2 separate regions of the Homo sapiens genome follow, and region 1 is linked to region 2. The links come from fine-mapping of genetic effects on gene expression. A gene starts in region 2. The other region holds a variant in brackets. All regions are shown on one strand. Distances are between the middles of the regions. Region 1 has its middle 4.0 kb from the start of FAH. Region 2 holds the start of ZFAND6 (zinc finger AN1-type containing 6).

What was found. PIP is the estimated chance that this variant, and not a neighbour inherited with it, causes the effect.
Region 1: its variant is fine-mapped to the expression of ZFAND6 in whole blood (INTERVAL, PIP 0.97).

What each region holds. Positions count from the first base shown.
Region 1 is chr15:80,146,337-80,151,721 of GRCh38, reverse strand. No RefSeq gene overlaps it. Among named protein-coding and RNA genes, the nearest start is that of FAH, 4.0 kb to the left of the region's middle. The variant G/A (reference allele first, on the strand shown) is at 2,176.
Region 2 is chr15:80,057,604-80,062,988 of GRCh38, reverse strand. ZFAND6 (zinc finger AN1-type containing 6) reads right to left here and starts at 3,313. Exons shown (of 7, transcript NM_019006.4): 1 at 3,180-3,313. RefSeq lists silencers at 2,741-3,610, 3,307-3,635.

The sequences.
Region 1 (5,385 bases), 89 kb before region 2:
ACTCATGTGCAGTCAGCTGCAGTTTTTTGAGACCATGCCACAGCCAGGACACTTGGAACACACCGGAGAGTGTGTCGTTGTGTTATTGTTGGTGTGAATGATTCAGGTACACTTTTAAACAGCCAGGATGCCGGCTGAAATCTAGAAAAGTAGACGATAGTCTGGGCAAGGGTTCCCTGAAGATCCTTGAGGAATGTGACACAGTGACTGCTGAGTTAGGGAGGCTGCTCCGCATTTCAGCTTAGGGAGAAGAGGCTGGAAGATGGCAGGATAATGTGAGCTAAGTGGGCTTGAAACCAGACGGCTTGAGAGGAGCGAGTACGGCAAGCAGGGCCCGCTGTTGAGCCCCCCTTCCTAGCCCCTGAGATCACTCTGGTGCCTGTCCACCAGGCGTGACCAGTGATCATCACCCAGTAAGGAGTGTAATCTGGGCACAGCCTCTTGGCTCTCATCTCCTGCCCTGAGTGGCTCTGCCAAGGACTGGCTTCAGTTCTTTTAAGTCAGCCCTGGGGAGGGAATGAAGGTGGTCTGATTTGTTCTGGTAGGTTCCTGAAAGAGGAAAAGAAGAGGAGAGTATCCCAACTTGGTGGCCTTATAAAGAGGCATTCCAGGGAGCACTTGATACCTGCCTAATTCAAGCTAGTCCTCAGCTGCAACGCAATGAATTATTTCCACGTTCTGTAGTTGCCCTGCCCCTTCCCATTAAAACCACGAGCTTTCTTATTCCATGTGCAACTCTGTCAATACCCAGCAAAACACCTGGCACAGAATAGGTTCTCCATAAATACATGTCATTAATATAAAACTGTTGACCAAAAGGAAATGAAGCAATAACTAATAAGCCCATGCCCTATGCCAGGCCATGGGGATACACCAGCAACTCACATCTTTAATTCCTGTTTTTATGGAGCATGTGTTGTGTGGGGGATGCTAGGCCAGGAGCTTCTACTGAATACATACAAGTTAACAAAAGCCTAAATGATAAAACCCTTGGAGAAAGAAAACCAAAGTATTTTAGGGAAAGGACATGGGGCAGATGTATGTGTAGGAAAGGGTGTGGGGATGAGATGGCTAAAGAGGGAGTAAGATTTCATAGTTTTAAAATAGACTTAACCAACCCACTAATTATACACAGTGTCTGAAAACGCCAAAGCTGTTCTCTATTTGGAAAACAGCATTTGAAATAACTTGCAAGTATACTATATTTTTTCTTTCTCATTTTTTGGAAGAGAATGTGTTGGCCACGTATATCACAACAATTATTTAAAAAGAATTTTAAAACAAAGAGATTGCCCATAATCCCACCAATGTAGTCTTCTCATTTTCATGTTTTTTTTTCATTCCATTTGTATGCACATGGCTTTTCCATCCTTATAAACTTTACATAGATGCAATTTTTCAGTCTTTCCCTACCTTATTCTCTTGAATATTTTTCCTTGAGGCCCAATAGGCTTTATTATGATCATTGTCATTAGCTAAGGAAGTCGCAATGTTTTAGATGGTAATAATAACGGTTCAATGAAGAGGTGCATGCACAGAATGTTTTCCTTTTCCTTGACAATTATCTAAGGAAGATTCCTGACTCAAAGAGTATGAACACTTTCAGGACTCGCAGTGAGTTTCAGCATCTCCAGCAATGAAGGCTGGTTTGGGTCTCTGTAGCACCATATTTAATGCCTCCCTCTGATGCTAAAAAGCAACACACTGCACTGCAGCCCTCATTCACACAAAGCATGTCCCTCACTCCTTTACAAGAGAGCTGAGAGAGAACTTTCCAGATCCAGGACACTAATGTCTTGCAACGGCTCTGAGAAGCTGGCAGTTGCCATTCAGATAAGCAAGGTGTGGACGCTGCCTGCACTGGGAAGCAGGATGGGGTGGCCTTTTTTGCAACATTCAGCACTGCTGCATGGTCGTCAAGAAAAAGAGGAAACTATGTCAAAGGCCAAGCACTTTAGCAAAGTAAGTGTCCTCTCTTTTTCAGGTCTGAGCTCAGTGATGTTTATGGTACACATTTTGTAGTGGGCATCATGGGTTTGGCATGTGTCCAGTACATTTTAGTATCAAGAATATATGTCATGTGCAAATATACATGACATTCTGTCCTCTCAAAGGAGTTCAAAATTTAGAGGATCTTGGAACTGAACGTAAGTAATTCAAGTGCAAGTGCATGTT[G/A]TAGGGTGGGGAGAAGGGGATTGGATGAAGTCCTAGGTGAACCAGCTCAACCAGGGCTAGGTTTTCTGCAATATAAATTTTCTTCTTCCTGCCCTCTTTAATTCTGTCTTTAGTCTGTTTCAGGTACTATTGTGTCTATGTTCTGATGGAATACTACCTCAAATCCATTTTGGATTTAAGCTGGATTTGCAAGACTCACAAATAACAAGCAGCACCTTAAATAAAGAACATGTCATTGCCATCTGACTTAATAATGTGTACCATATAATGAGTTCTCTGTTACCATTATCAAAGCAGGAGCCACTTTTTAGACTCTCCCTCACTGTTATTTCAACAAAATACTTCTAATTTTGTTTTGTTTTCTTATAACTAAATACATATTCAATAGTTTTCCCATCTGAATTATCCCTTTTTTCCCATCCAAATGTTCGGTGCCTTTTTGAGCTATAGCTGTGGATCCCACTCTGCTCCCAGAAATACAGAGGAATGTTGACACATAAGTTACAACCTCTGTATTCAACCTGTTTGGCACAGCTGAATAGATCATTCTCAGTGCCTCTCTCTGCAAACATTGTTTAGTTTGTCAACAATAAATCCACACTAAAATTTCCCTGTCTCTCTTTCGCTCTCTCTTTCTCTCTCTCTCTCTCTCTCTCTGTCACACACACACACACACACACACACACACACACACACACACTAAAGTTGGTTAGGCATGATTTTTCCTTGTGGCCCTTTCCCTAGATGTTGAACAAAAGGAAACAGTATGTGGTAACAGAATATATATGTCTGTTGTTGTTGTTGTTGGTTTGTTTTTTGTTATGTTTTGTTTTGTTTTGTTTTGTTTTGTTTTGAGACAAAGTCTCGCTCTGTTGCCCAGGCTGGAGTGCAGTAGCACGATCTCGGTTCACGGCAACCTCCACCTCCCAGGTTCAAGTGATTCTCCTGCCTCAGCCTCCCAACTAGCTGGGATTACAGGCTCACACCACCACACCTGGCTAATTTTTGTATTTTTGGTAGAGATGGGGTTTCACCATGTTGGTCAGGCTCGTCTTGAACTCCTGACCTCGTGATCTGCCCACCTCAGCCTCCCAAGTTGCTGGGATTACAGGCGTGAGCCCCTGCACCCAGCTGTAAGAATATATATGTTAAGGTTTCAAATAAGAAAGATTTGAAATCTCTTTCTAGAACGTTCATATTGAGTTTGGGTTTAGGTTACTGTACCTCACCAAATCTTAATTTCATGCATTGGAAAAATGAAATAATAAAAACGATACCTGCCTTGTAAGGTTGTTTAGAAGATCAAATAAGAAAACCCCTGCAAAAACTCTCAGCATATTGTGGGACACACAGAAAGTTCTCAATAAATGTCAGCAATCCTGTTTTCCTCTTCCTTACCTCCCCATCACTAATGTACATAAAAGTATAACATGCAACATGAGAAGTAGATTGACTCTGTCTAAGAACATCCTGTGTGAGAGCATTCTGTCCTGCCCTCCCTCCTCACCAGGATTCTGATTGTTGTTGTCAGATGTGTTCCACATCTCAGCGGCTGTCTGGGACAACACCTGGAGAATTCTTTTTTACTTTTTTAGCTGACAAATAAAAATTATACATATTTATCATGTAAAACATGTCATTCTGAAATAGGTACACATTGCACAATGGCTAAGTTGAGCTACTTAACATAAACATTACCTCACTTTTCATTTTTTTTGTCCTGAGAACATTTGAAATCTACTCTCTTGGCAATTTTCAAGAATATAATAAGGCCAGGCGTGGTGGCTCACGCCTGTAATCCCAGCACTTTGGGAGGCCAAGGCGGGTGGATCACAAAGTCAGGAGATCGAGACCATCCTTGCTAACACGGTGAAACCCCCTCTCTACTAAAAATACAAAGATTAGCTGGGTGTGGTGGCACGTGCCTGTAGTCCCAGCTACTCGGGAGGCTGAGGCAGGAGAATCACTTGAACCCGGGAGGTGGAGGTTGCAGTGAGCTGAGATTGCGCCACCGCACTCCAGCCTGGGCAACAGAGCAAGACTCAGTTGGACTAAAAAAAAAAAAAATACGGTTATTAATTATAGTCAGCATATTTTCCAATAGATCTCTTGAACTTATTCCTCCTATCTGAAATTTTGTGGGCTTTAACCAATATCTCCCCAACCTCCCAGCCCTTACCCCCTGGTAACCATCATTCTATTCTACTTCTGACTTCAACTTTTTCTGGGATTCCACATGTAAGTGAGATCATGCAGTATTTGTTGTTCTGCATCTGGCTTATTTCATTTAATATAATGTCTTCCAGCTTCATCCATGTTGTCATAAATGACAGGATTTCTTTTTATGGCTGAATAGTATTCCATTGTGTATACAAACCTTTTGTTTATCCATTCATCTGCTGATGGACACTCAGTTTGATTTCATATCTTGGCTATTGTGAATAATGCTACAATGAACATGGAGGTGCAGGTATCTCTATGACATACTGATTTCATATCCTTTGGATATATACTTAGCAGAGGGATTGCTGAATTATATGGTGGCGCTAGTTTTAATTTTTTGAGGAACCCCTATGTTGTCCATAATGGCGGTACTAATTTACATTCCCACCAACAAAGTACAAGGGTTCCCTGTTTTCCACAGCCTCTGCAATACTTGCTGTCTTTTGTTTTTTTGATAATAGCCATTCTAACAGGTGTGAGATGATATCTCATCGTGGTTTTATTTTGCATTTTTCTGATAATGATGTTGAGCATTTTTTCACATACCTGTTGGCCATTTTTATGTCTTTTGGGAAATGTCTATTCATATCCATTACTCATTTTTTAAGAATTAGGTTACTTGTTTTCTTGCTATTGAGTTGTTTGACTTCATTATTTATTTTAGATTCTAATTCCATATCAGATGTGTGGTTTGCAAATGTTTTCTCCCACTTCCTAGGTTTTTTCTTGTCGATTGTTTCCTTGGCTATACAGAAGCTTTTTAGCCTGATATAATCGCATCTGTCTGTATTTGCTTTTGTTGCCTGTGCTTTTGGGTTCATATCCAAAAAATCATTGCCCAGACCAATGACATGGAGCTTTTCCCATTTTCTTCTAGTTTTACAGTTTCATTTCTTAAGTTTACGTTTTTAATCCATTTTGAGTTGATTTTTATATATGGTGTGAGATAAGGGTCTAATTTCATTCTTCCACATGTGGATATCCAAT
Region 2 (5,385 bases):
AATGGTAACAGATGACTTCTATTATCATCTTATATGAAATAAGATGGTGAGGCAGATTACATTTCGGTAAGTTCTTAAGAAAGAGCCAGGCTGAGAGTGTTTAGAATGGACTCTTAATAGTTTAGGATATTAAGAATACACACATAAAGACCAGGGGTATACCTGACAAAATGTTAATAATAGTTATCTATCATGGTGTTATAGGTGGCTTTTCTTAGTAACTTTCTATTCTTTCTCAAGTTTGAGGGGGAAAACCCCATATACACATTGTCCTTATAATTAAATAAAAAATAAGGTTTTTAAAAGCAGAATACAGCCCTACCAAAACAAAGCATCCTGATATTTGTCTGCAAGCTACATATAGAAAAAATGAAACCATCTCTACTCCCATGCCTTCAAACAAAAAGGTTATTCAAAATTACATGTAAATTCACACTTACATACATGAATGAAACATGAAACACATAAAAACACACCTATCTTCAGGATAGTAAGGAGATACTATTCCCTAATTTGTCGCTGTGTTCCTGTTAGCATAATGAAACAGATCCTCGGGAAACACACCTTGTGGGCATTCTCTAATCTAAAACATATTTAAATATGGAGTTAACAAATCCTGAACCACCACACAACTTTTCCAAAAATGTTCCAAAGGATACAAAATTTAATTCCACAGAATAACACCTTGGTCCTAATGCTTTCCCTTAAAGGGTGTGACATTTGACAGGTGTTTTCCTTAATTAAAGTCTGTGCAAAAGTGGAAGGATAAGCTTAGGACAAGTTTCTTTTACATGAGTATGCTAAGGCACAAGAGAAATTTTTAAGTAATTTGCTAGAGATTAGAGGGGAGGAGAGGAACAGCAGAAAGGATAATTTATTTTACATACAATCCAGCGTTTTTTCTACTATACTATTTTTGCATTGAAAAGGAGATACCAAACAGTGCCAGACTTTTTACAATGTGACTTCAAAGTAAGAGAGTCATTACACATAGGTTAACAGGAATTTTGGGTTTTCATGCAAATGTTCAACTAGGTTGAACTAGTTCAATCACTACGGCTATGAATCTTCTATTTAAACATAATAGAGAATCCTAATGTTTTTCATTCATCTTATTTCTAAGTAATTCAATCTATTCTAGTCCTGATTACCTAATACCGTCTAATGCAATCCACATTAAGTATTTACTCTAGAGAAATTCTTGTACTTGTGTACCAAGAGCCGGAAACAAGAAATGTTCACAGAGCAAGACTGCTTATAACAAAACAAAATAAAAAACAATAAAAACACGGTCGAAGTGCCCATAAGTTATGGCAGATTAACATATCATAAAGCAATGAAATAAACTACAGCCACATACTATTTTTATAAAGCTCAAAAGAAAAACAAATTAAATGCCACACAGTTTCGGCATACAAACATATATGATAAAACTATTTTTCAAAAAGTCAAGGAAGTGACATACACAAAATCCACTGCACAGATAAGAAACTCATAGACAAATGCAAGTTTTAGTAATGTTCCAGTTTTGGGTTTGGGGGGAGTCATCAAGGATTTATGATGTTTTTATCTGCTTATACTTTACCGTGTTTTTTTTTGGTAGTATTAAATATATTTTGGTTACTTCTTAAAAACGTTACTGACATATAGTTGACAATAAACTGCACATATTTGAAGTGTAAAACGTGTAAGTTCTGACATATGCATACACCCAAAAAGTTATCACTACAAGATAATAAATCCACCGACCCCTGTATTTTCTCCTGCACATTTGTGATGTCTCCCTTTAAACACATTTTAAAACGTAAAAAAGTAAAAATAAAAAAGACAACTTGTTTTGGAAAGCTAAACGTGCATATTTTGCAAAACATTTCCCCTAGGGCTCTGGAGAAACTATACACAACTCAGAAAGTGCCTTAAAATTGGTGACATGGTTACCGAACAACTAACCTTAAAAGTTTATGGTATTTTACACTTTTAAAAAATCAAATTCCGATTTCGGTTTGAAAGAGGAATTTAATCCTGTTTCTCGGAGCTTCAAAATCATTAATTCTGCCCGGCTTTTTTTTGAGACGGAGTCTCCCTCTGTCGCCAGGCTGGAGTGCAGTAGCGCGATCTTGGTTCACTGCAACCTCCGCCTCCCGGGTTCAAGCGATGCTCCTGCCTCAGCCTCCCAGTAGCTGGGACTACCGGCGCCCGCCACCACACCCAGCTAATTTTTGTATTTTTAGTAAAGACAGGGTTTCACCATGTTGGCCAGGATGGTCTCGATCTCCTGACCTCGTGATTAGTCCGCGTCGGCCTCCCAAAGTGCTGGGATTACAGGCGTTGAGTCACCGCGCGTGGCCAATTCTGCCCAGTTTTTATGGCCCAACAACTTAATATAAATTATCTTTAGGTAACCCCAAGGTCCTAACTTCCTCACAACTGGTTACAACTTCCGAGATGTGAAGGTAAATCATAGCGTCCCAACTGTGTAGGATAGTTAGCACGTGACTTAAAAACCAAGTTAAAAAGATTTCAAACACAATATTCTTTCATACTTTTTTAGGTAGCTAAAACTTAAATATAACTATTTCAAAAAAGCAGACAAAAAATTTAGAATCCTAAGCAAGCTAAACCCAAGCAGGAAAAAAAGAGACCAATTCCCTTCCCGGTGCCAGTCAGGAGTTGGAGACACCGGGCTGCCTCCGGCTGGTTTCTGAAAAACGCCGCAGGTGGAAAAACATCCCGAAGAGGACCTGAGACTCGGAGGAGGCGGGGAACTGACGCGCCCCAGTGTGCCCGGGGCCCTTCCGACCCCCGCCAGCCAACCGCTCGCAACCCGCTCGGGGCGGCGCGCGTCGCGGCCTCCGCGGCCCTGAAGAACTGAGGCTCCCGACCCCAGCGCGACCACCCTGACAGGAAGCGGCCCCCGGCCGCGGGCGCCCGCGCGCCGTCTGAGGTGAACCCGCCGATCTCCGGCCCCCACCCCCGGAGCCGGGAGTCCTCGCCCTCTCGCCCGCGGCCCCCGCGGGCCCACCACCTGCTGCGCCGGCCGGCCGCCCTCCGCTTCCGGCTCTCGGGCGCCGGGAGGGGCCGGGGGCGGGCCTCGCCTAGCTGCAGCCGGGTGGGGGAAGGGAGCAGGCGGGGGAGGGGCAGCGCCGGGCAAGCCGGGCCCCGCGGGCCGCGCTCCTCACCTGGCGGCGGGTCTCTCCGCCTGACACGCTGCGCGCCGCCGCCGGTAGCCGCCGGTGAATGGGTACAGGTAATGCCGCCGAACCCCTGCTTGCTCCGGCTCCGCCACCGCCGGCCCCTCCGTCCGCTGTTTATTAAACTTTTCTGTTTGGTTGTTCGGCCTATGACGCGACCGCGGAGGAGAGCCACTGGATTGGCCGGCTCCCGCGGCTGACGCGCGGGCCCCGCCCGCCCGCTAATTATTACCGGCGCGGGCGGGGCCGCAGGCCGGAGGAGGCGGGGAGAGGCGGGGTCAAGGCTCGGAGCGCACGGCAATTGGCCGGAGGCAGGAAAAGAGGCGGGGCGGAGCGAAAGGAGATGCTCCTCCGCCTTCTGCACCTCCAGTGTCCCTTGCTCCACTGCCCTCTCTGGGGCGCTTCCCGCCGCGGTTTCTCTACCTCCAATAGCTACGGGAAGGCGATTAAGAGGTGCCGCGGAGACTTTAAGGGCTTGGTTATGTAGGTTCAGGTACCTTTGCCACCTCGCAGGGAATGGCGTGTCCCTGTCTTGGACTGAGGCACCAAAAAGAGTTGCACTCCACCTGCCACTTGTGCAGGAAGGAATTCTGAGCTTCTGTCTTCCCATGCAGGCCGGCGCCTCAGTCTGCAAGCGCAAAGTCCGAGCTCAGGGCGCATACTGGAAAGCAGTTCTCTGCCCTGTCCTGAACTGGGACTTGGAAATAGAAGCAAGACGAGAAGCGTGCATGCACACGTGTGCAATACATACATGCACAGGCACAAGCACCCCCAGTTCCAGCCTGTTCCAAAAGCACGGGGTCAGTTCCCACCTGCGTGGTGCACGCTGGGCTGCTGCGCTGGAACTAGGGGTGATAGGCAGAATGGCTCCCCCTGAAGTTTTTCAGCCTTCGTTCGGGCTCACGAGCATCACGAGCAGGAAGTACGTGACACTTTAGTTCGAGGTCATTCAATCCTATTGTGAATGAGGAGTTCCGTTAGGGCATCCAGGTAGGCGAGCCCAGTCCTGAGAATCCTCTTTATTTTAAATGTTGGTATTTTGTTATTCATGGATTTTTTTTTTGCATTAATTTTAATTTTAAAAAATAAAAATGTTATTCATCTTGATCACTTAGTTTTTTGGTGCTCCCTTAAATGTTGTGCCTGAAGTGAGTACCTGTTGAGCATTTAGCAACACAGAAGTCACCTTGGGGAGTACAGTTTAAGTGGAGGACAAAAGCCTGATTGGAATGGTAATAAAACCTACTTGTTAGGCTATTTGTGGGGGTTAAATAACATAATATGTGTGAAAGAGCTTCTTGAACTAGCAAGGTTATGCGTCAAGTCTTACGGATTTTGTCTTAAATGTATTTTTCTTCCGATTCTTGTCCAGTTTATCGTTGTATTAACTCCAGCACCTAACCCAGTTGGATTTTCATATGCAGTTATTATGAATTTGCAGAAATTGGGTTTACATGACCTTTACTGCTTTCCTTTGTTCCAGATTCGTTCTGGGAGATTGAGAGATTATAGTATTGCATTGTGACGTGGAATGCAGACAGACCACTGTCACTTACTAGCTTTGTGCTCTTAAGAAAATTGTGTGAAATGGGAACGAAAACCTACCACAAAGGATTGTTATGAGGGTTAAAAGATACTGCATTTCTATTCACCCAGTAAATGCTATATGCCGACTCTCTGCCAGCCTGTGCTGTAGGTGCTGGAGACAGCATTAAGAAAGATGAAGGCCCTTCTCTCATTGACTTACACAGGGGAAGAGAGGGAGCAGAAACAATAAACAGTATACATACGCAACCTACCGGTCAGTGTACATAAACAACATATTCACAGCACCTGGTATGTAACAGATGCTCAATAAATGATTGTGTATGCATTATTATTTCCAGCCCCATCTTCTTTCCTGTGTTCCAGAGCAGGACATTCACTGTGTGCTTATCACAGCCATTCAATATGTCCAAGGCTTATTTTCCCCCAAACACATTCTTCCTCCTGTAGTCCCAATTTTGGCTAATGGTGACACCATGTTTCCAGTTATTAAAGCTAGAAACTCAAGCTTTATTGAGATTTAACACACATATCATTACAACTTACCCATTTTTAAAGAATACAATTTGCTGGGCGCGGTGACACATGCCGGTGGTCCCAGCTACTCAGGAGGGTGAGCTGGGAGAATTGCTCGAGTCCAGGAGTTCTG